Linked DNA regions of Homo sapiens. The protein of the gene in region 1 interacts with the protein of each later gene in a biochemical or structural test. Each region holds a gene or a part of one and is shown in the gene's direction. Other genes may lie near its edges.

Region 1 (9,644 bases):
TTTAACACTAGTACTGTATATAATACTTATATTTAAATACTCATGCAGTGTTAATTTTTTTTTTCTTTTTTGAGACGGTTTCGCTCTTTTCACCTAGGCTGGAGTGCAATGGCGCGATCTCAGCTCACTGCAACCTCCGCCTTCCAGGTTCAAGCAATTCTCCTGCTTCAGCCTCCCAAGTAGCTGGAACTACAGGAGCGTGCCACCATGCCTGGCTAATTTTTTGTATTTTTTTTGAGACAGAGTTTCCCTCTTGTTGCCCAGGCCGGAGTACAATGACGCGATCTCAACTTACTGCAACCTCTGCCTCCTGGGTTCAAGCAATTCTCCTGCCTCAGCCTCCTGAGTAGCAGAAATTACAGGCACGCACCACCACGCCTGGCTAGTTTTGTATTTTTAGTAGTAGAGTTGGGGTTTCACCATCTTGGCCAGGCTGGTCTTGAACTACTGACCTCAGGTGATCTGCCAGCCTCAGCTTCCCAAAGTGCTGGGATTACAGGCATGAACCACCACGCCCGGCCAATATTCTTTTTTTTTTTTTTTTTAATTGAGGCAGAGTCTCGCTCTGTCGCCTAGGCTGGAGTGCAGTGGCATGATCTCGGCTCACTGCAAGCTCCGCCTCCCGGGTTCACGCCACTCTCCTGCCTCAGTCTCCCGAGTAGCTGGGATGACAGGCGCCCGCCACTACGCCCGGCTAATTTTTTTGTATTTTTAGTAGAGACAGGGTTTCACCGTGTTAGCCAGGATGGTCTTGATCTCCTGACCTCGTGATCCGCCTGTCTCGGCCTCCCAAAGTGCTGGGATTACAGGCATGAGCCACTGCCGGCCAATATTCTTAAAACAATAGAGTATTGACACATTTAATAGATGTGTTGGGAAATGGCTATATTTATGTATATTTGTATCTTCATTCTTCCCCAAAGTTCATTTGGTATATTGCCATAAAATACATAAACAATATGGTTGAGAAAGAGAAGTAAATCAATCTCAAGCAATGTTATTGTCTTTCAAGTAGCAGCAATAGCTGTATTTACGGCAGAAGGGGCAAAATGCTTCCTAGATACTAATGCTCAGATTCAGTGCTGGAATATGGGGAGCTGGAAAATGAGTTAACATTGCCGGCTCTGGATGGAAACAGATTATGAGGTGCCATATATTGGTGTATGGCCCTCTTAGCTGTGTAGAAAAGCCATGAGTTATTGCCGAAATTAATGCCTTGCCAGTGAGATGATGGTCATTCACAGAGCTAAACCCAGAACTTTCCAGTTTGTTTCTGCCCTGAGAAAACTGGCTCTGTGTTATTTTATGCCTCTCACCAACCCAAATAACAGAAATTTTTCGATGCTCTTCCCCTGGAATTAATGTGAAAATGGTGAAGAAGAGAAAACTGGCAGACAGTGCTGAGACACTCCTACTGCATTGCACATTTTGGTTGTAGTGATAGGAGCGAGGGCCCCTCTGGCAGGCAGGCAAGCAGGAGCAAGCGACAGATCTTGTGTGAGCCCGGCATTGCTCTGAGCCCAGGGTTTACCCTCAGAGGCTTTCTTTGGAACTGACAACACATTCCGTAGAGCACAAGTTCCAACTCCCTCCTCCACGCTTCACGTTACTGTTTGCAAACTCCACATATTCCAAAGTCTTGTTTTGTGTAAACAGCTAGGGAAAAAACACAGAAGCACTCGGCTTCCATCCTCATGTCAGGCAGCAGTCCTTGTCTACACAGGCTTCATCCTTCCCTGCTCTAGTGGGGAGTAGGACAGAGGGCCCCCACGGCCCTTTCCAGATACAGTGATTCCAGGTTCAGTGATTCCAATGGTGGCTGAGATTGCATACACGGGAAAGCTGCCCTAAAAAGAAAGTTACTCATTAAATCGGATTACTCCAATGCTGCCCCCTTCACTAAGGAACCCCAGCCTCCAATTTCTCCCATGCTCAAGGCCCCTATCCATTGCCCTCCCACATGTACCCTGACACAAATAGCACTACTCTCAGTTTCTCTTCCCGAGGTTAAGTTGAAGTCTGCCCTCTTCCTTTCATCATGTTCTCCTCTGTCCCCTAGTCTGTCCTTGCAACTCATGGCTAAAGTGAGGTACATATGGCAGGTACAGGAGCTGCCCAGCCATTGATGCAAAATGGGTTAAACTGATCCTGAACATGCTAGGGTTGGCTTCTCTGTCTTCAGTATGACTTGAGAAGTCCCAGAGCAGAAGGTATGCCAATGAAAATGGAGCAGGCCTTGCTAAGAGAGCTTGCAGGGACACTGGTATGGACGCTCTCTGTGACTGGACAGAGGTGATGCTGAGCCTGGACTGGAGCCCAAACCTAGGCTCCAACTGGGCCCAGGGTGGGCCAGCCCAGTAGCTCTCTGGTTCTGCTGCTTTCCACACTTAGGGGTTCTATTGTTCCAAGACATAGAAGAACAGTGGCTGCATCCCTGGTGGCTTTGATCTTGCTGCCTGCAGGCAGGGGCGGAGGGTGTGGGGAAGGCAGGATGAGACTTCTGTGTGGGTGTGTGGGGGCACAGGATGAGTCTCCAGTGGGGGCATGAGACCAACGTGGGGCAGGGCTGGATGGGCTGTTCTTGGTGTGAACTGTGCTACAGTGTGGCCTTGGCCTGCTCTCTCCTCCCATCTCTCCTCCCTTAGCCTCTCAGTCTCACCCCACAAATCTCCCTCCCTGCTGGCACTGCAAATGAAATGCATGGAGGAGGTGGCATCAGCAGCAGCATCTAAATGGCCAAGAGCAGCCTTAGATCTGAGGACTTGGGACCCCCAGGCTTCACTGACAAGTAAAGTACACAAGAGACCAGGCCACATAAGCTGCAGCCCTGCCCTCTTCTGCTAAATGCCTTCACCTTCATTGCCATTTCCATACCTAGGGAAGAGCCCTGGGGGTTATCATGCTTCCTTCGTGCTGTGCCCTTTCTCCACATTCATTTCTTCATCCATCCAACAAATAGCTTTCTTACATAAACTGTGAGGGACAAAAGTTGTTGAGAAGACAGTCCCTGGCATCCAGGGATTTGGTGTCTGATGAAAGAGATAGACATGTAAACAATTGCTGCAAGGAGATAAGAGCCCTGCTACAAGCCTGCTGGAGGTACCGTGGGAATGCGGGAGGGGAGGGGAGGGGCCGGGCTCTGCCTGTGGGGGTGGGAAAGACGAAACAGCAACACAATTCCAGTCACATCTCGGGTGCCCAGAAGCGGCTGCAGGCGTGAAGACAGAGGAGGGTGTAAATGTCACACAGGTGAGGGAGGGGGAACGGAGCTGTGCTGGTGCCTATCATCGTGGAACAAGCTCTCTTATGGCTTCCCCTGTAACTCCACCTCTACTCCCACCACGCCACCATCCCTGGTCCTGGCTGTGAGCTGTATTTAGAAAGGCCCTGTATTTCCAGGCTGTGGGCAGTCATTTGGGGTCGTTTTGGGTTTGTGTTCCTAGCAGCAGGATGTCTGGATCACAAAAGCAGTGATCCCACTAAAACCTCTCTGGCCTGCATCCATGGAAGATGTGTTCACTGCTGGCCATCTGTTTGAGTGGGGCACTGAACAAAAGGCTATGTATAAAGTTATTCCTCCCAGAATTACCTATGATAGCAAAAATTGGAAGCAATCAAAATGTTCAAAAATAGATAAATGGAAGACTGGCTCAATAACTTAGAGTATACTGTTATGATGTAACATCATGCAACCCTCTAAGAACTGGGCTAAATAATTTTGAGTGATATAGGAAGTAGGATAAAGAATTAGTATAAGCTCCAGTATGTTAAATGTATACTCCCTCTCTCTATGTATATTTGTGGGTATATATATATTTGCATAGAAAAAAGACAGGAAGGTGCCAGGCACGGTGGCTCACACCTATAATCCCAGAACTTTGGGAGGCCAAGGTGGGCAGGACTCACTTGAGGTCAGGATTCAAGAGCAGCCTGGCCAACATGGTGAAACCCCATATCTACTAAAAATAGAAAAATTAGCCAGGTGTGGTGGCACATGCCTGTAGTCCCAGCTTCTCCGCAGGCTGAGACAGGAGAATTGCCTGAACCCGGGAGGCAGAGGTTTCAGTGAGCCGAGATTGCACCACTGCACTCCAGCCTGGGTGACAGAGCAAGACTGTCTCAAAAAAAAAATTAAAATAAATAAATAAGAAAAAAAGATAGGAAGAAAATACGCCAAAATGTGAAGTGTGGTTATGAGCAAATTTAATTTGTTTTTACATTTTTATGTATTTTCCAAAGATTTGATAATGAGTATGTTTTACTTGTATAATGAGTCAAAACAAAAATGGGGATGGTGTTCATTTTTGTGTTTTAAATGTGGATTGAGCATCTAGAGAAAAGTGACAAGGATGGTGAGATGTTAGACATTGTGTCATTAGACTATCTGAAGGAGGACACGGCAGTTTTCCTTTTTAAAAAACTCCATTAGTTATGGTTCAAAGGAAGTCCCATGGCTAGTGGAGAAGTCTGGTTCTGGGTTTATTGAGCACAAAACTGTAAACCACAAATGAGTGTACTATCACGTGGATTGTAGCTCAATAGAAGAGGTCATTAATCTCGGCGCTAACAACCCCATGGCTGTGTCCAGAGGCCCTGAGCTCCCTGACCCTAGGAGAGTCCTGCAGAGGTTATGTAGGAGCCATCTCTAAGAGTTCCTAAGAGGGGCCCTCCAACTCTAGCACGTTGTGATTTTTTTTCAATACAGATCCTTTGCTGGCCATCCTGATCATGCAAGCCTTCTCATTTCCCACCATCTATCACCCATTGATACAACACTCTCATCAGTTAATATCAGCTTCCCATCTTTATATATAAACATGCAGCCATTGACGGGGTGACAGCCTATCTGCAGGATATCCAGGAGGAAGTAGACAGTCAGGAAGAGAAAGGGAGTAAAAGCCAGAAGCAAGCTGATTTGTGAGCCCTGCCTTTTCCTCGCCATTGTTCAGACAAGCCCATTCCTGACTCAGAATAGTGGAACTAGTCATTGGCCTCTCAAATCATCAACGCATCTCTATTGATCATCTTGTGCTGACGGCTCAATGGTCAGTGTGTGGGCAACAGTAAGGTGATTAAGAGGAGGTGCTGGCCCCCAAGTAACTTACAAACAAGAGTAGAAAACAAGTGGCCGGGTGCAGTGGCTCACGCCGTAATCCCAGCTCCTTGGGAGGCTGAGGCAGGCAGATTATCTGAGGTCAGGAGTTCGAGACCAGCCTGGCCAACATGGCGAAACCCCGTCTCTACTAAAAATACAAAAATTAGCTGAGTGTGGTGGCAGGTGCCTCTAATCCCAGCTACTCAGGAGGCTGAGGTAGGAGAATTGCTTGAACCTGGGAGGTGGAGGTTGCAGTGAGCCAAGATCTCACCACTGCACTCCAGCCTGGGCAACAGAGCAAGACTCTGTCTCAAAAAAAAAAAAAAAAAAAAAAAAAAAAAGGAGTAGAAAACAAGCATGTAAAGAGCAGAACTGGAGGAGACGGGCAAAATAAGAGCACCAGCAATGTTCAAGGCATCACAATGACATGGCCCTAACTGTGCTAAAGAGTCAGAAGGTGCGGGGCTCCAGTGGAAAACACAGTGGATTCAGGACCAGAAAAACAAAATGGAGAATTAGAAGGGTATTCCTGGCTGGAGCTGTAGTATGCTGAAAGGCGTGGTGATGGCTGGGTGCAGTGGCTCACACCTGTAACCCTGGTTCTTTGAGAGGCCAAGATGAGAGGATCACTTGAGGCCAGGAATTTGAGACCAGCCTGGGCCACATAGTGAGACACCATCCCTACAAAAAAAATTTAAAAATTAGCTAGGCGTACACCTGTAATCCCAGCACTTTGGGAAGCCTAGGCAGGCAGATCACAAGGTCAGGAGATCGAGACCATCCTGGCTAACACTGTGAAACCTCGTCTCTACTAAAAATACAAAAAAAAATTAGCTGGCCATGGTGGCGGGCACCTGTAGTCCCAGCTACTCGGGAGGCTGAGGCAGGAGAATGGCGTGAACCTGGGAGGCGAAGCTTGCAGTGAGCCGAGATCGCGCCACTGCACTCCAGCCTGGGCGACAAAGTGAGACTCCGTCTCAAAAAAAATTAGCTAGGCGTGATGGTGTGCACCTGTAGTCCCAGCTACTTAGGAGGCTGAGGCAGGAGGACTGCTTGAGCCCAGGAGTTTGAGGCTGCAGTAAGCCATAATCATTCTGTTGCACTCCAGCTTGTGTGACAGAACAGGACACTGTCTCTAAAAATACTAATAAAAGAAATTAGCTGAGCATGGTGGCGCATGCTTGTAGTCTTAGCTATTCGGAAGGCTGAGGTGGGAGACTCACTTGAGCCCAGGAGTTTGAGGCTGTAGCATGCTATGATCATAACACTGCACTCCAGCCTCAGCAACAGAGTGAGATCCTGTCACAAGAAAAAAAAAAGGCACAGTGAGAACACACAGCATCTGAATGTGGAGTGGCATGATGCTGCTAGAATGGAAGGTTGGTGGAGTTTACCATGGGAAAGGGAGTTGGAATGAGAGGTTGGAGCCAAGTTAGGGAGTGTGGGCCTGATCCTAGGGTGTTTGAGAGTCAGTGAAGATTTCTGAGTGCAAGAGGACATTGACCTGCAGCAGTGGTAAGAAAGATGAATGAGAGACTGGAGAGACACAAGTCTGGGATTCCTGTAAGAGGCTATTGGAAAAGACGCTGGAGCTCTGAACCAGGGCACTCCTGGTAGGAGTGGGAATAAGATCACGGGCTTGAGAGACATCCTAGAGACAGAGTTGGCTGAATTTACTACTGAGAAGGACTGGAGGACAGTAGGAGGGAGAGGAGGAGAAAACTTGGGTGTTGTTGAAGATACCATGGCCCTACCTTTTGCAGACCACCATATTCATGCCTCAATGCTGGGAACTTCCCTGGGCTCCGTTTCCTGTGCCCCATAGCTCTGGCTGCTTGGTCTCTGAGTTTTTCTTGTCTTAGTAACTGAGCTACTTCACTTCTGGCCTTGGCACATGATCACAGTGTTGAACTGTTCTCTCTCAAGGAACACTCTTGTCCCTTCCAGCCAGCCTGCAAGCTCCTCGATGAAAGACCCAGGGTGCATGTTGGTGCCCAGCAGGTGTATACCTGTCAAAGCACTAAACTGATTTGTGTGGCTTGAAGGCGTTTACTGGTAACCTGACCTCCTTCCCTCCCTCCCCTGCAGAGACCTCACCTCTGAGGACCAGATCGTACTGCTGAAGTCAAGTGCCATTGAGGTCATCATGTTGCGCTCCAATGAGTCCTTCACCATGGACGACATGTCCTGGACCTGTGGCAACCAAGACTACAAGTACCGCGTCAGTGACGTGACCAAAGGTATGCCTAGACTCCACCTCCTGGGGAGTCTTTTTCAGCTCCCAGATTCTGGCTCCACCCGTCCTGGGGTTTGGCTCCAATCAGATACATGGGAGGGAGTTAGGCACCAACAGGGAGAGAAGGGCGAGGGTCAGACCCATGGGGTTGGAGGTGGGTGGGCGGCTCCTCAGCTCTGCCCGCAGTACCTGGCCATTGTCTCTCACAGCCGGACACAGCCTGGAGCTGATTGAGCCCCTCATCAAGTTCCAGGTGGGACTGAAGAAGCTGAACTTGCATGAGGAGGAGCATGTCCTGCTCATGGCCATCTGCATCGTCTCCCCAGGTATGGGGCCAGGCAGGGAGGAGCTCAGGGACCTGGGGAGCGGGGAGTATGAAGGACAAAGACCTGCTGAGGGCCAGCTGGGCAACCTGAAGGGAGACGTAGCAAAAGGAGACACAGATAAGGAAATACCTACTTTGCTGGTTTGCAGAGCCCCTGTGGTGTGTGGACGCTGAGGTGCCCCTCACTGCCCTTAGCTCTGCCTTGCAGAGTGTGCAGGCGATTCGTAGGGGGGATTCTGAGGAACTAGATAAGCAGGGTTCCTGGGGCCACAGACAGGCCTGCGCATTCCCAATACTCAGGCTCTGCTCTTGCGTGAACTGGGCTCAACATTCCTGTTATTTGAGGTTTCTTGCGGGCAGGGTACAAAACTTTGGAGCCTGAGAGATGGTTCTGCCTATATAGTTTACCTGATTGATTTTGGAGGCAATGTGCAGTGACCCTTGACCTCTTCCGCTGGTTAGAGGTGAGAAGAGGGAGAAAAGGCCGAAGAGGAAGTTATTGTGACCTTGGGGACATGATGTCGGTGATGAGGTCCAAAGAGGGGCGGCCCTGCCTCAGCCTGTGCTAGTGGCCTGTGCCCAGGGATGCTTTCCTGGACTGGAGGCTCAAGGAATGGAGATGGGCTCCTCTACCCCTGCCCAGCCAGCCTTCTCTCATTCATTCATCCACTTAGCAACAATTTATTGAGCACCTATTAGGTACCAGGCACTATGCTAGGTACTGGGGTTCAGCAGCAAATGGGACACAGGCTCCTCTCCCATGAAGCTTAGGAGGAAACATTAAACAAATGTTATTTAATTATTAATTCCTAACAAGGCAAGAGTTTTAAAAATAAAGTAAGTGATGCTACAGAAGGGTAGAATAGAAGGAGGGAAGCTGACGTGGTCTGGGCTACAGAGGTAGAGTGTTGCCAGGAATGGCCTTTTGGAGGAAGACCTTTTAAGCTGTTATCCAAAGGATCAGTAAGAGTCTGGCAAAGATAGCAGAGCAGAGTTCCAAGCAGAGGGAGCACAGATGTGAAGGCTGGTGGCCAGAGAGCATGGCGCATCGGGACGCTGAGGGATGGACAGAGCATGGACAGGGAGCAAGGCCAGGCAGGGACAGGGCCAGGTGCGCCCATGGAAGGACCTAGGTCTGGATCCTAAATGCACGGAGAAGTCACTGGAGGGCTTTGGGGCCAGGCAGTGGTATCACCGGTCAGCAGTCATAGAGGGGTGGCCTAGGGGGTGCTGCCGTTGAGTGTCTGTGTGGGTGGGGGGTGGTGGGATTGAGCAGTGAGGGGCCCAGCTGAGAGCTCCTGTGCCTTCTTCTCTATCCCCGTGCCCACAGATCGTCCTGGGGTGCAGGACGCCGCGCTGATTGAGGCCATCCAGGACCGCCTGTCCAACACACTGCAGACGTACATCCGCTGCCGCCACCCGCCCCCGGGCAGCCACCTGCTCTATGCCAAGATGATCCAGAAGCTAGCCGACCTGCGCAGCCTCAATGAGGAGCACTCCAAGCAGTACCGCTGCCTCTCCTTCCAGCCTGAGTGCAGCATGAAGCTAACGCCCCTTGTGCTCGAAGTGTTTGGCAATGAGATCTCCTGACTAGGACAGCCTGTGGCGGTGCCTGGGTGGGGCTGCTCCTCCAGGGCCACGTGCCAGGCCCGGGGCTGGCGGCTACTCAGCAGCCCTCCTCACCCCGTCTGGGGTTCAGCCCCTCCTCTGCCACCTCCCCTATCCACCCAGCCCATTCTCTCTCCTGTCCAACCTAACCCCTTTCCTGCGGGCTTTTCCCCGGTCCCTTGAGACCTCAGCCATGAGGAGTTGCTGTTTGTTTGACAAAGAAACCCAAGTGGGGGCAGAGGGCAGAGGCTGGAGGCAGGGCCTTGCCCAGAGATGCCTCCACCGCTGCCTAAGTGGCTGCTGACTGATGTTGAGGGAACAGACAGGAGAAATGCATCCATTCCTCAGGGACAGAGACACCTGCACCTCCCCCCACTGCA
Region 2 (8,322 bases), on another chromosome or scaffold:
TATTGGCATGTAACTTTAAGAACCACATAAATGTGTATTTTTGAAATAAAACGAATGTGTCTTGAATCCTTATACATTTTCTTACCAGTCCCATCTATTTTGTCTTTGATCCAAACTCCTAAATGTTTGTGCACACATTTCTCGGTGACAACGTTGGGAAACACAGCAACAGGACTTCATTATTCTGTTCCTTCCTGTCATTATGGAAACCAGCCATCAACCTATGGAGTGATGGCAGGTAAGAAAAGTTGTCTTTTACATGTTATTGAATTTGGGGACACTTAGATGGATTTTCTGGGCCTGAAAGAATTGTGATCAGAGTGTGACATGAAATTTGATTTCTTAACTTTGAAAATTACTGTTAAAAATCACCACTTCTTGTTTCCTGCTCTGTGACACCCACAGAGACCATAGGGGTTATACCTAATTTCCCTACTTACGTATCTCTGAACTGCTGTGCTTCTTGAGTTTGCTTTGTATGGTTTTTATTGAAATTCACTATCGTCAAACTGTTAGTTGTAACATGATGCTATTGGTAGGCTTACCTTCACTAAAAATATAGTAGCTACTAGACACGTGTGGCTATTTAAATTTAAATGTAAACTAGGTAAAATAAAACAAGATTTCAAATTCAGTTTCTCAGTTGCACTTGCTACATTTCAAGTGCTCTATAACCACATGTGGCTAGCGACTCCCATATCAGACAGCACAGGTTTACAGAACACCCCCCCTCATCATTATATTTCTTCTGGACCTTTGGTCCATAAACATAAATAAGACATTGATTGAAGCTAAGAGTGATTGGTAGGGGCTTTAGTGATAGCTGTTTCAGGCTTTAGCAGCCCTTTCTGAATTGCTTCTGAGTGAGTCTTAAGTGAGATTGAAATCATTGAAGTTACATACTTTTCTCCTATAGGTAAGTGAAGTATGACTGTATCAATTATGGCTACCTGCTTATTGATCCTTCTATAAAGGCATTGAAGCACAGTTTTTGAGGAATGCGTAGATCTGGCTTATGAGATCTATTCATCAAAAATTCTTGTTTAATTTCATGGCATGGCCACATAAGATTTTAATTGTTTTTAAAAAGTACACAGTTTTATTATGCGCAGGATTTTCATTTGTTGGTTTATTTTTAAGATAGCTTTAGGAGATATACCTAACGCTAAATGACAAGTTAATGGGTGCAGCGCACCAGCATGGCGCATGTATACATATGTAACTAACCTGCACATTGTACACATGTACCCTAAAACTTAAAGTATAATAATAATAAAAGAAAAGAAAAGAAATTCTTTGATATTTTATCTTTATTACTACAGCAGGAAAAGAATTCTTATTGATGACAAACTGTGTGAGTAAATGTGTGTGTGCGTGTGCATGGTGTGTGTGTATGTGTGTGATACTGAGGGAAAAACTGTGGATAAAGGAATCACTTATTAGGGAAATCTTTTCTAATTGACTTGTGTTTTGTTATGATACAGATAAGCAGTAAAAAAAAAAAACCGCAGACAAATATTGATTTATTCCTATAATTTTCAAGTAAAATGGAGCAAATAGTTTAATTTTAATTAAATTGTTTAACCTTTGATATCTCAAAATTTGTCCATGTAAGACTAAATAGAACATTAAAACTTTAAAATAATAATCCAGAAAAATATGAGCTTCTCCTACATTCTATCAAGCAACATTCTGAATAAACCAGTATCCTAACATTTATGGTTAAATGAAGACTGGTGTTCTTAACAATGACCTGTAAATCCTGACGTCTTTTTTTAAAAATTAAGAATTAAAGCCATATTTTTTCTTCCTCTCTGAAAATTGATTATTTATGATCAACATGCTTAATTAGTATTCATGGTTAATGAGAATAGCCCTCCTCAATGATGAACTACTGTCATTATAAAATAGTAAAATAAATGCGTTTAGCTACTGGAGGTGCGGGTGGATTGCTTTCTGTGGCCTTTACAGCATTTTGATTATGAGACAGGAAATGACAAACACATGCCACTGTTTCCTGGAGGAAAGACCTTACAGTTCATTTAGAGGAACTCCCAGGAACCAAGGTACATTGTTAGTTTCTCTCTTAACCCAGCACAGAGGCAGTCCCTGCCAGTTGATTGAGGTTGGCACCAAGATTAAAACCAGTCACAGAGCAGGGGCCAATAATCTCTGGCCCAAATACCTTCAGATAATTTTTGCTACCAACTCCCACCCTGCCTAATCAGAGAGGGCCACCACTGGCCTCGGGAGTTTGCAGCTGGCCTCAGAATTCTAACACCCTTACTGCTTCCAGGACTGGAGCCAATATGCCAATGTTCACATTGAGAGTGTTGGCAGCTCATGTCTTTCTGATACAAGTTTCCTCCAGCATGAACTCAGCAAACCCTCTTCCACGAACCTCTTCCTCATTTCAATTAAAATGTAAAGACCCCTGGAAGAGCCTTTCAAAATGATTCAAAACCCTGTCTTAGTGACATCAAGAGCAGAAGACTTACACCAAGGTCTGGAGCTATCACTGTGGTCTTAAGATTAAATATATTCTGTGACTGAAAGAAAAACTCACCATCACAAGCACAAAGATATTTGAATATTTTTGAGAGGGATTGTTAAATCCCTCTCAAAAATTTTGTTAAAATGTGATATGCTTTAAATGTCAGAATGTCTATATTGGGACATAATTCAGTATTAGCATTTGCTTCATGAGAGATTAGATCTTAGAGAATCTGAACTCTCCTGACTTTATCCCCAGTAAAGCTGCATAAATTGAGTTACAAAATACAGCAATTCAGAAATAAGAGAGAAAAGGTAAATAAGAGACAAATGTATAAAGTACACAATAGAAACCTTATTATGTCATCTGAATTTTCTGAGAAGTCTTAAGTCATTAATCAAATCAGCCCCTTGCACACAATCCACAGAAGTGTCTTAACAACAACAACGACACGGTGTCACATACTCTATATAAAAGTGAAGCTACAGGAAGAACTATATTTCTAAAATATGTGAAATTACTTTATTTTCATATGGTTATTTCATTACTCATACTCTGATGCTTACATTTAGTTTGAGCATTTCATTAAATTAATAACTCACAGGAAAAGAAGAGCTATAACTAATATTTTGTCAGGTTGGTAGGTAGAATTTTAATGATCAGATGAATCCACTGTACGTAATAGTCCAGGTGCAGGCAAAATAAAGAGAATGACTAATTGGGAGTAATGAATTATCCATGCCATTAACTAATTACTAACATTGTTCAAGTGATTAACACCTCTGAGTTCCAATCTCTTCATATCTACGTTGTGGTGGGTACTACAACTCTACTGGGGTTGAGTAGTAGCAAATTTGTGTCAGCTCAAAATGATTTCTCTTTTGCCCTTCTCTTCACGTACTCTTGCAGCTAAATTCCTTCTGTCCTTTCACTCCTGAGAACTTAGAGAATTCAAATCAACACCTTACAGTACAAATAATAGAAAACCTAGAATTACAGATGCTGTTCAAAGTCTCTCCTAGATAAACACAAAACAAAACAAAGTATCAAAAAAAAAGTTCTCAAAACTCTGACTCTTGGGTTTCTGAGATTGTTTCTGTTCTCCAGTATCTGAAGCAGAGTACAATTCAGGAAACAAGCTCAATGGGGGTTCACCCTTTCTGCTGTCCTGTGGAAACAGCAAATCAACCTCACTGTAATAAATGTTAAACCCACCATCTTTACATGATGTAGTGGCCAAACCAAGAAGTAGTGTGAAAGTCCTTGCTTTAAAAGTTAATTTCAAGGGGAAAACAAAACAAAACAAAACAAACAAACTTGTTTAAGTCCCAAACTCTTGGGACTTAAACAAGATGATGAGCATCCAATTCTTTTTCATGAGAAGTGGATATTAAAAGAAAAGATTGTTATGGCTGAAAATATTCTTGCTGCCTGGGCTAATACAGAAGAAAACGGAAATCAGCCTGGCAACTGACAGGGAGAAATAGTCTAGTCTATTTTTGGAACCCATCTTTTCATTTTTTGAAATTTGAAATTTTTTTTTCTTAATTTACTTCTTTTGTTTAGTTCTTTGTTTTATTTGGCCCTAAATTGTTCTGGTTGTAACAACTCTAAGGAAACAAGTAATTCTGAAGATCTTTTGCTTCCACATCGTGAAAGGTCTTTTGGTAGCAGTAACATGATGTATTTTCACTTCCAGACTAGGGGTTGGCAACCCTTTTCTGTAAAGAACCAGACAGTAAATATCTCAACCTTTCTAGTTTTTGTTGCAACTATTCAACCTGTCATTGTAGTAGGAAAGCAGTCACAGCCTGTGTGTAAAGAAATAGGCATTTCAAATTAAACTTAATTTACAAACACAGGCAATAGGCCCCAGTTGTACACGGATAGGATTTACCAATGCACAAGAGTGAAAAGATCACAGTGGAAGTTTATAATTTCCTTTGAATTTTTATGCCTAAGCAACAGAGGGGAATATATGGAAATATTCAGATACATGTTCCTGTGCATGTTACAAGCACAGCAGGGTGGCGTATTTTACTATGTCCCTCTGCTTCCCCTGTTTGTTTTTTTAAGGCATCAAGCCAGTAACGTGAGATGATGTTGTCAGCTAACCACATGCTGCAAAGATCAATTTGCCCCATGCTATGGTACATTGAGTCAGCGCCTAGTAAGGCATCCCTATCTCTGACCCCCATTGCCTGCTTTAAAAGATTTACCTCTGTTCTTCTCTCTCCTCTGTCACACAGAAATGCATACATAGCAATTTAGAAAGGCTCTGGTGAATTAATCTTCAATGTGAAAATGTATTTGGAACTACAGTGTGCAAACACTTCTGAGCTATGTGTGTGTGTGCTGTCCAGGCCTCAAGATAATTTTTCTTTATCCATGTTTCAGAAAATGTTGATGAGACCTCTGTCACACATGACTCACAACATCTTTTATCTTATTCCTACTTTTTGCAGTAATCTGGGTTTTAAAAAGATTTGAAAAACATATTGCTATACATATCATCCCAATCACTCTCCACACTCCCCCAAATGCAGGCTCAGATGCTAGAAACAGAGGTTCGTTTGGCTGTTCTTTTAAATTGTTGTGATGAAATTCTGTGTGAAGTTAGTTCCAGGAAATCTGTGACCTTGCAGATAATTGTAGATACTTTCATGCAATGAAAAATGAAAGTGAACCAGGTGCAGTGGCTCACAACTGTAATCCCAGCACTTTAGGAGGCCGAGGCAGGCAGATCACCTGAGGTCAGGAGTCCGAGAATAGCCTGGCCAATGTGGTGAAACCCTGTCTCTAAATAAAAAATTATAAATAAAAAATAAATTAAAAAATATAAAAATTAGCCGGGTGTGGTGGCAGGCACCTGTAGTCCCAGCTACTAGGGAGGCTGAGGCAGGAGAATTGCTTGAAGCTAGGAGGCATAGGTTTCAGTGAGCCGAGAGCACTCCAGCCTAGGGAACAAGAGCGAGACGCTGTGTCAAAAAAAAAAAAAAAAAAAAAGGGAAAGGGAAAAAAATAAAAAATGTATCACACATCACATTTTCCTTCTTGTTCTGGATGCCAAACCTTGGAGCATGGTATTTTCTGTGTACTTTTCATGGATTCCATTCAAATTTGTTTTCTGCGTGTCCACTTTCCCAGAGTACTTACAATGTATAAACTACCTTTCAATTTTTGTGGCTGGGTTCTGTGGCTTATACCTATAATTCTAGCACTACAGGAAGCTGTGGCTGGAGGATTGCTTGAAGCCAGGAGTTTTGAGACCAGCCTGGGCAACATAGTGAGATCCCGTCTGTGCAAAAAATTTAAAAAAGTAGATGAGCATGGCGGTGCATGCCTGTAGATTCTACTTAGGATGCTGAGGTGGGAGGATGGCTTGAGGCCAGAAATTTGAGATTGCAATGAGCTAAGATTTTACCACTGCACTCCAGTCTAGGAGACAGAGTGTGACCCCATCTCTAAAAATAAAGAATAAATAAGCAAACAAACAAATAAACAATTTTACGGAAACAGGGATGACACACTTTATATATATTTTATTGTAATATTTTTGTGGAACAGTGTTTGTTTAATATAGCCAAAGGTGTTTAAATGCAGAGAAAACCTTTTAAAGAGAAGTTATTTAATTTGCCTGAGTATAGACTGCCTGGAGAATGAACCGGGCAATGATTTTGATGTGGCTTACTGCAATGCTTATTAGACTTTAGTTCTGGTTTAAACTGCAAAGTTAATTCGTTGGGCACTGGAGGCAAGTTATTTACTTTCTTTCTACTTAAATTTCCTCCATTGTAAATTATGGGGAAAAATATATATCTTTCCTGACTCATTTTTTGTATAAGGATAAAGATGATAACAAATGTGAAATTAACACGACACAAAGTGTTGCATAGAAGATTTGTAGCAGTACATAATTATGATCAGCAAGAGAAATTGAAAATAATAATAATAATTGATAACAAATTTAGACCTTTTAGTATGCGTAAGTAAAAAACACACAAATTTTTTATATAAAATAAACATAATTTGACATAGGTTAAATGAGTTATCTAAAGTGTCTTAAAATATGTTAAATGTACAAAATCTAACAGTAGCCTGGCTTTTCTTTGTACTCTTTCTCAGGGTATTTTATCATTAAATGTATTAAGTGATACCTGATGGACCTAAATAATCAAAGAAGTGAAGGTTTTATAAATATATGTGAGAATCAATTCTGAAAGCATAAGCACAAAACAAGTCTTCAGATAAATATGAGATTAAATAAATGATAACATAAATGTCATCAATTTTCTTTTACATCTATTAGTCCTTCTTTTAATTTAGCAGAAAATTAAAATTAATAAAAAGCTAAAAATAAACCCCACGGCAATAAATATTTTCAAGAAAAGCTATATAATAAAAGAAAAGTTGGTAAAATTGCTTTTAAAAATGTTCTCTTGTCTGATCAAGATGCCACACAATAAAGCATAAAATGGATAGTTAACTGACTTTTACAAAAGTAAACCTGGATAATTTTGGTTTGTAAAAGTAGCAGGAATTTTTTAAAGACAAAAATAATTTCTTTCACATCTTTTCCCAGCTTTAGAGCAGATAAATTTATGTTATGCTAATTTGTTTAATCTCTCATTTGTATGTTTACTTTGTTTTAGAAAAAATAATATACCCTATTAGATATAATTACATATTTATAATTACATATTTTTATATAAATTTATAATTATATATTTATAATTACACATTTATAATTATATATTTATAATTACATATTTTATATAAATAATACATTAAATTAAATTTATATAAAATTTAATACATTAAATTAAATTTATATAAAATATAAATTTTATATAAATAAATTAAATTAAATAAATAACTACATATTTATGATTACATATTTTTATATAAAAAATATAAACCAACAATTTGCTGAGTTACGGTATTCTTTGCTCATTATATATTGATATATTAATGTAAGATTTCTGTATTCTGGAAAATATATTATTACTCATGTCTTTGATTTGAGAATGTATGTGTGGAGAAATTATAGGTAGCATGAACTCTTGATGCATTTTTTTCCAGTAAGTTTCTAAGAATAATTATTGCATGTATTCCATAGTAATTTATTTTAAAATATTTATATTTATAAGAAAATGATTAATTACTCAATATTTTTATATAAAAATGTCTTGCTTATACAATCATCCTTCTATGTGGCACATTGGTTCCAGGACCCCCAAGGATACCAAAATCTTTCGATGCTCAAGTCCCTGGTATAAAATGGTGTAGTATTTGCATATAACCTAGGCACATCTTCTACCTTAAATCATCTCCAGATTACTTATAATATCTAAATCAATGTAAATGCTATGTAAATAATTGTTATACTGTATTGGGTTTTTTATTTGTATCATTTTTATTCTTGTGTTGTTATTTTTTACTTTATTTTTTAAGTGTATTTAATTCATGGTTGCATCAATCCATGAATGCAGAACCCATGGATATGGAAGGCACACTAGACATGTCATTTAATATAAATTGAAGTAGAATCTTTGTCGATAAAAATTGTAATGTATTGATAAAGAAAACAAGAAACAAAATGTGTTGGAATTTGGCTTATATACTGTCCTCTCACCTATACTTCCCAACTGAGATAGACTCTTCCAATGAAAAAGGAAATCTGGAAGCAATTGTGTAATAATTTCAGACCTTTTTACATTTTTTGTGATTTAACATATCCACTCAGTAGAGTCAATGCTTTACCATTTATCGGTAATCACTTATCATATATAAAGTTGCAAACTTTCTTGCTTCTTATATTTGCTTTT
Region 3 (8,322 bases), on another chromosome or scaffold:
AACTAGCTTTATAGGCCAGACATTTCCTCACACTCCTTTGGAAGGACATTTGTGGAGTAGGCGTGACCTCATGCCTGCATACATGTGCTCGGCTACAAGTATGCATACACACTCTTCCATGCCCTACTTGAAAATCCAGACTCCTTCCCCAGAGGTCTGGCAGGACAAGATTCACTTGTGTCTGCTCTGCATATTGCCACCTGTGTGCTGATATAAATCCTAAGTTACATGATGGTCATGGGAGACTCTCCGTTTTCCTAATGAATTTTAGGACTTGCTTATATCAAGTTTTTGTTGTGATTTTGAATCTTTAGGATCACTATGTAAAAATGGACTTAACAGTTATCCAAAAAGCTAAGTGTTACTTTATCCTTTTAAATTACATTTAATGATGTTTTAATCTTTAAAAATCATTACTTCTTTATGCCAGATTTATTGTTTGTAGTAGGCAAAGAAGAAAATATATCTTTTTAAATGTGTATAAGAAAAATAATGAATTTTACCATATGAATCATAAATATAAAACAGAAGTTTGAAAATATTTGAGTTAAATTACAAATGTACTGTGATTTGTAGGAGAGCAATTTTGGGAGAGTCTTGTGATTTGTCTTAAAGCAAGTCTAATTAAAATAATGTTTTTCATGTATTTATTTGATAAAATCACAAACTCATTTTAAAGGCATATTTATTGGATACCTACTATGTGGTTGACATTGTTCTAGGGATACACCAGTGCACAGAATCCTCCACCAACATCCATCCCTTCAAGTGGTGAAAACAGACAATAATGAAAATAAAATATGTGGTAGGTCAGATGGTGGTGTAAGTACTATGAAGAAAAATAAACCAGGGAAAAGAGAGAGCATGTTTCCAGGGTGGGAGGTGGTTGCAGTTTAAATAAAAGAGGCCAGAGAAGGCTGCCCTGATATGTTGACAATAAGCAAAGACATGAAGATGTGTTTCGTGGAGGAGAAAAAAAGTTCATCCCCAAACTCAATTAAAAACAGGCTTTAGACTATAAATGCCATTTAAATAAAATATTCCTGGGACAAACTATGTTTTGGATTAAGCAAGATATTTAAGAGTACAACCTGATGCTAGGAAGGCTTTCTTTGGAGCTATGGTTTCCATATACATAGAAAGAATGTATATTCTTTTTCCCTATAGGATGTCTCAGTGGTACGAACTTCAGCAGCTTGACTCAAAATTCCTGGAGCAGGTTCACCAGCTTTATGATGACAGTTTTCCCATGGAAATCAGACAGTACCTGGCACAGTGGTTAGAAAAGCAAGACTGGTAAGGAAAATTCACTAGACAGAAGAAGAAGTTTACACCTTAAAAGTACTGGTTGATTAAGTGACTTGGGGCCATGTTTACTGGAAGATGAATTCCATCAATGGCCACTGGAATTATTTGTTGTAGAAAAGTTTGTTGATTTAAAAAATGACTCAACAAAGTTGAGCCAAAAAGTGTCTCAACAAAGTTAAGTATATTAGTCATTAAGCACTTTTATACAGTTTTGCCAAATTTAATTTATGATAGATATTCCTAAATGCTTTGGACAAGTTACGGAATACTGACACCGATTATTTTCCAACTTAGGATCCAGACTATAGAAAGAAGTAATTTAAAAGAAATAAAGCCAAATTAATGGTTAAACATTGATTAGAAATATGAAGAAGGTAGTAAAATTAAGGGGATTTTTTTTAACTGATAGGTGTTCTACTTTAAAATTTATTATTTGCTAATTTAAAAACGTCCTGAAAGTATTTGACATAGAAAGTGAAGGGTCCCCTGTTGACTTTTCCCCCTTCAGAGATAGTCACCATGAACACTGTCATGCACAATCTCTTAGAGTTTAGAATTTTTTGTGCTAATTGCACATAAGAGAAATACCACATAAACTGCTGCTAAAAGCAATGTCAGTTTCAAAAGAAGAAAATAAACCTAAGAAAATACTTAAATTATTTTTAATAATTTCAATAAGGAAACCAACATTTGTTTTGTCTGTTTTACATAGACATTTAGTTCTAGAATGAAATGTGTAAATGTTAAATCTCCTAGGGAGCACGCTGCCAATGATGTTTCATTTGCCACCATCCGTTTTCATGACCTCCTGTCACAGCTGGATGATCAATATAGTCGCTTTTCTTTGGAGAATAACTTCTTGCTACAGCATAACATAAGGAAAAGCAAGCGTAATCTTCAGGTATGACCTGGTTTTTGTATTTTAGTTGAAATGTTCTCATGTTTATGGAAGGCAGTTTTCTTCATTCAGCAAATACAATTGAGCACACACTTATTGGTATTTAGAGAAGTAATAGAGACTAACTCCATTTATGTTTTCTACAGCATCAGTAAATATAGCATAAGTAAAATAAGATACCAATTTATTTTATAAACACAGAAGGAATTTTTAGGGTTAAATGTATCACCTCTTAGGTATCAGTAATCCTGAGAAAAATGTGATGCTATAATTTTGTTTTACTAAAAATTGTCAATATTTAAACCAAAGAAAAGGGGCTACATTTTAAGAGCAATGATCTATAGTAATACATTAAAGCTCCAGGGAACATTAGTGGTTAGGTTCAGGTCCTTGCTATGCAAATGAGGAATAAAACAGGAAAGGTTTGACTTTCACCTAAGGAAGTCAGGTGACTTCAGGAACTAGACTCCACCTTGCCTTGCTTCTGGTGGAGTTGGCCTCTCCTGGAAGAGAAAGTCAAAGAAAGATCCAGACATGAGAGAACATGCTATAGAGTTTTAGGGGTTCTTCAGATGTACTCCCAGCATGCCCTTGGGGTGGCTATCATATTTATGTTGTGTAATAACAGAACTTTTCTGTTTTAATGGAGGTGAAAGCTATCATTTTCTTCTTTCATACAATACAACTGAACTTTTCAGCTTAGGTAATTGGAAGTTGTTTTTTTTCCTTTGTGAATGTATTTATGATTTTATTTACGAGTGGGGAAATCAAATTAACTTTACAGAAATTTGTTCTCATACAGACCTTGCATGAATGTACCTGTATAAAGAGCCATTATTGCTATTGGTAGTGTTTTGCAAACTAGCTTTGACAATGGCAACAGAAAACCCTAGATGAATATCTTTGGTCTAGTTCAAAGCTTAGACCAACAGATGCATTCATTGAGGAATGTCATGTATAGTTTTTATATCATTTGCATTGTCTCGGGATCCTAACCAAAGATAATTGGCCTTAAGAAATATGGAAAGATATTAAAGTAAAAATATTATGTGAACCATATGTGAAAATACTTGTTTTTAAATCAAAAAGTACGTTAGGTACCTGCACTTAGAAAGTTAAAGCAATTTTTGTCATAATTCGTGAAAGAAATATTTTGATTTTAACAAACATAGCTTATATAGAATTTAATAGATGAGAGATGAGGTTTCCCGGAGAATATAAACAAATTCATATCAACTTACAATACACAATAAAGTAAACATTCTGCATTTTAATTTATTTTTGTTCTAACCACTCAAATCTAGGATAATTTTCAGGAAGACCCAATCCAGATGTCTATGATCATTTACAGCTGTCTGAAGGAAGAAAGGAAAATTCTGGAAAACGCCCAGAGATTTAATCAGGTACTTTTTTCTCATTGAACACATAAACTGTAATAAAATAAAAATGTATTCATTCATCAAATACTATTAGGGCCCATGTCAAAGCAATGATGAATATCTCTCTAATTTTATAGCCCCAAGAAGTGGGAGAATCAGATTTAGAGATTTTATAGAACCAGGCTTTAAGAAAGATCCTAATCTAATGGAATTAAGTTCTAACGAGGAGAGAGAACATATAAACAAGATACTTCTGGGTAGCATAAAGTGCTGAGAAGATAACATGCTGAATTCATGGAGTGGCTGGGAGTGGGGTTGTTCCTTTAGATCAGGGTCAGGAAAGGCCTCTGAGTTGCTGGCACAGGAATGGAAGCAGGCAGATAGAGGGTTCTTGCAGCTGTCCAAGGTAGAGGCAGTGGAAGCTTGCGCTCAGTAGAATCAGTGGAGGTAGGAAGAGGTGGACAGATTCAGGTTATGCTTTGGATGTGATACCAATATAGAAGGATCCTTATGTTGAAGGATTAGATGCAGGAGTGAGAGCAGAAAGTCAAGGATGGCTCTACAGCAGCTACTAGAACCCCTTGAAAAATGGTAATGCTGTACACGGAGCTGGGAAGGCAAGGAGGGGGCAGGGGCAGGAGTTTTGTAGGACTCAATAGGTTTGTGGAGAGAAAAGGAGGCTGATGGGAAAATCAAGGGCTTTGTTTTGAGCAACATCAAGATACCTATTAAATATTCAAGGCATCAAACAGTAAATGAGTCAGAGTTGTACTAGTATCAAGATTTTTGATCATTGTTTTATTAATCCTAATACAAACCTTCCTAGTTGTCAGGGTTCAGCAGAGTTTTGAATTTGCTATGGCATTTAGTATTCCTTTCTTGAGCACTGGGGTGGTGACAACAAGCCAACAGGCAGGCAGTGTGAAGCCACCATGTTATGGATTGTTCTGGAGGAGCCCATTGCTATATGGATGCCAGAGGACACAGTATGCATCCTGTGTGCATTTCACCAACAAATAACTACCGAAGTGAACTGTGTGACAGTGGAGAGGGAGGGAGTTTAGGTGTGGTGGAGGATGCCATTCTCCACACACTGCCTGAGCATTTGTCCCAGTCCTTGTAATCCTGTCACTTCCCTAGGCGTATAGTTCCCATCTTCTTGTCACACTGATAGCATCTTGCTGAACTGAGCATGTAAAGATACATATTGCTTATTCTAAACTCAAGCTGGCTAGCTCATCTGGTACCCAGCCTAGGGAACAAAGGTGTATATCAACGCTGGAGGAGAAGCTGGCCAGGTTGTCTCCTCTGAAAGAGGTGTGCCTGTCTCTAACCTGGCATATACCTGGGAGATTTTCAGCCGGCAGTTTTGATTATATGGGGCTTCCATCCTAAAAGTAGTATGCGTGGGCCTCCTCTGTATTTCTAATAGACTTGAAAGGACAGCCAGGAGCAAAGATGGGCAGAAGGACAACCTGTTTCCCCCAGCTGCAAGCATGTCATCCTCACATTTGGCCCCTTGGCCCAGAGATGGCATTGGCAGCAGAGTAGGTGACCCCTGCTCTCCCACATGAACCTCATCCCCTGGCTTTGGATCTTGAAGGTTTACCAGCTTTTGAGCTCCCTCCCCATTAAAAATGTAGGTAATCTGGGGATTGTTTTGAGCCTCTCAGAGGACACCTGAGTCCGTGAACACCTTTGCAAAGCCTTCTTGGGGTGTGAGGGAAGTTTCTGGGTGTCTGGGGATGTCAGGGAAAGGGAAAAGGCACAATAGGTGCCTCCTTTCCAAAGTTATCCAGCCAACTATTGGCTAGGTAGGTCAGAAACATTTCTTCACCATTTCCCCCCTTGTTGAAGTAACTTTATTTTATTAATACAGACATGCATCACTTAATGACACAGATACATTCTGAGAAATGCACCACTAGGTGATCGCGTTTTTGTGCAAACATTATAGAGTGCACTTACACAAACCCAGGTGGTATAACCTACCATACACCTACACTATATGGTAAAGCCTATTGCTCCTAGGCTACAAACCTGTACAATATGAAGTTGTACTGAACGCTATGGGCAATTGTAACACAATGTTATTTGTGTATCTAAACATAGAAAAGGTACAGTACAGATAGTGTGTAAAAGATAAAAGGTGGTACCCCCATAAAGCTCCATTCTAATCTTATGGGGCCACTGTCATATACGCGGTCCATCGTTGACTGAACCATTGTTATGTGGTACATGACTGTGTATATTCTATTCATGCTAAAGTATATGTGTATGGAATGGTGTGATGTCTGGTATTTGCTTCAAATAATCCCATTTGGGGACTAGAAGAGTAAGGAGAATAGGGATGAAACAAGGCCATCCATGAATGCTAATTGTTGAAACTGTGATAGGTACATGGGGATTCAACAGATTCAACAAGTTAAAAACATGCAAAATTCCGAGTTAGTTCAGATCATTTAGAGACCACAAAATTCTATAGACATGCCGAGATGGGAAATTATTGTTCCCATTGTTTTTTAATATAAGAGCTTTTAGAAAATACATTTAAGAGAATATTATGCTATACACACTGTAGTAGACTATAAATGTTTCGTGTGCTGTCTTACAGCACACTAAGTTTTTTTCTTTCTTTTTTTCTTTGTGGTGAAAAAGCTAGTTGCATGTCTAGACAAAAATTTAGGTCCATAGGGTCTGAAGGGATGGGGAGAATTTCTTTCAGGTGGGAGGGAAAGACATGAGGTGGATTCTAAGCTTCCTTTGCTGTTCCATCTTTGTGTTCTTAAGGACTAATGGTTACCATATGCTGAGTGCTTATCATGTTTCAGGCCCTGTGCTAAGCACTTTATAAACATTATTTCATTTGAGTAAATACTTTCGAAACTATCACTGAAGTTAGGTATTCTTATCCCCATTTTAAAGATGAGAAAACTAAGGTTTAGAGGTCAGGTACTTCACTCAGAGCCACAGAGCTAATGAGAAGTAGGTTTGGAATTTAAACCCAGTATTGTCCAACTCTAAAACTAGTTCACTGGAGAAGTCACTTTTCAGTTTTCTAATCTGTGGGATGGGATATGAGGGCTTTCTGGCTGGAACTTCTCACACCCATGGAGTGCCTATTCCCTTACTTGGACAACTGCTCACTCCATTGGAAAGGACCCCCTTCCTGAGCAGAAGACTTTTCTTTGCTCTGGGGTCTGGAGTAACCAAGTTCCCATCCAAACAAGGTCTCTAGAGGTACAGTAGTGAAACGAGAAAGTAAGAGTCAATGACAGCCGAAGTCCCTTCCAACTTCAGTGTTTGAAATTCCCGTGGTTTCAGTACTCCTGGTTTCTTAGAAAGTTAAAAAGTTAAGGACTCACTGTGAAAGTGGTATCAGTACTAAAGTGTACAGGAGCAGCCAAGCATCTGCTTAGCAGATGGGGGCAGGGTGGAGGGAAGCAGGGAGGGATGAGTGGAAGGGGTAAGAGAGCACCAAGGGTTTGAGTGACTTGGAGGGACTACTGCCCAAGTTGGAAGCAGGAGATTTCTTAGGCCCTGCCACAGTCACCAGGTTTTTCCACCAAGCATCTCCCAGCAAGTCAGTAGAAAGGGGATGTAGAAGCTGGGGATGTAGCTGCTGTTTTACAGCCATTGTTTATATCCCTGTTCTCTAAACCGAGCCTTGGTCATTTGGGAGGAGGCCTGGGAAGTCAGAATTCTCCAGTGGCCTGGTCCCTCTCTCTAGGTGTAGTGTCCCAGCTGTTACAAAGCCCACAGGACACCGTGCCCACATCCTGCTGGCTTAGAAGTTGTATTAGTCTGTTCTTGCATGGCTATAAAGAAATACCTGAGACTGGGTAATTTATAAGAAAAGAGGTTTAATTGACTTATGGTTCTGCAGGCTGTTACAGGAAGCATGGTGCTGGCATCTGCTCAGTTTCTGGGGAGGCCTCAGGAAACTTACAGTCATAGCAGCAGGTGAAGGGGAAGCACACATATCACATGGCCAGAGCAGGAGGAAGCAGGGGAGAGGTGCTCCACACTTAACCAGATCTTGTGAGAACTCGTGATCACAAGGATAGTACCAAGAGGATGGTGCTAAACTATTCATGAGAAACTGTCCCCGTGATCCAGTCACCTTCCACCAGGCCCCACCTCCAACAATGGGGATTACAATTCATGAGATTTGGGTGGGGACACAGATCCAAACCATGTCAGAATTAGACAACAGCAAAGATTTCCCTGCACAGGCAGAAAGCTGTATGGAACTCCTCAAAGTGACAACTTATTCCAACCGCCCAGAGAAACCCCTTTTGTCACTGAGTGATATGTGGCACCTTGGACTTACAGAGGATACCAGTAACATTCATGTATTTCTAATACACACTTTACAGCTGATACAATTCACATGCTTTGAACTTCTGCTGTTGGAGAATATGTAACATGAAGGAAAACTTCCTATGAAGAGAGAATAACTTTGATGACGTATGCCTGATAAAGATAAAACAAAAAATTATGGACCAATTTTACTTATGAGTATCAATATAAAAGTCCTCAATAAGATATTAGGGATCAGAATTAAATACTACATTAAGAAAGGACATGACCAAATATGATTTATTATAGGTTACAAGGGTAGTCCATGACTGGGCAACCTATTAATGCAATTCACTAAATTAATAGCTACAAGGAGAAAAAAGCATTTACTTCCTTCCACAGAAGCTGAAAAGATCTAACAGAATTCAATACTCA

What was found. Proteins that work in one complex are often made in the same cells at the same time.
Region 2: the proteins of VDR (region 1) and POU1F1 form a complex in vitro, tested with the Homo sapiens proteins (one study listed by BioGRID).
Region 3: the proteins of VDR (region 1) and STAT1 form a complex in vitro, tested with the Homo sapiens proteins (one study listed by BioGRID).

The regions. Positions count from the first base shown.
Region 1 is NC_000012.12:47,844,348-47,853,991, reverse strand, and holds part of VDR (vitamin D3 receptor), read left to right. Parts: intron 1-7,183; coding exon 7,184-7,335; intron 7,336-7,540; coding exon 7,541-7,657; intron 7,658-8,986; coding exon 8,987-9,246; coding exon of another isoform or gene 9,247-9,447; 3' UTR 9,448-9,644.
Region 2 is NC_000003.12:87,265,263-87,273,584, reverse strand, and holds part of POU1F1 (pituitary-specific positive transcription factor 1), read left to right. Parts: intron 1-88; coding exon of another isoform or gene 89-166; coding exon 167-238; intron 239-8,322. UniProt on the Homo sapiens protein: Transcription factor involved in the specification of the lactotrope, somatotrope, and thyrotrope phenotypes in the developing anterior pituitary. Specifically binds to the consensus sequence 5'-TAAAT-3'. Activates growth hormone and prolactin genes.
Region 3 is NC_000002.12:191,002,850-191,011,171, reverse strand, and holds part of STAT1 (signal transducer and activator of transcription 1-alpha/beta), read left to right. Parts: intron 1-722; exon of another isoform or gene 723-800; coding exon of another isoform or gene 801-805; intron 806-1,167; coding exon of another isoform or gene 1,168-1,168; coding exon 1,169-1,296; intron 1,297-2,028; coding exon of another isoform or gene 2,029-2,064; coding exon 2,065-2,209; intron 2,210-3,510; coding exon 3,511-3,609; intron 3,610-8,322. UniProt on the Homo sapiens protein: Signal transducer and transcription activator that mediates cellular responses to interferons (IFNs), cytokine KITLG/SCF and other cytokines and other growth factors.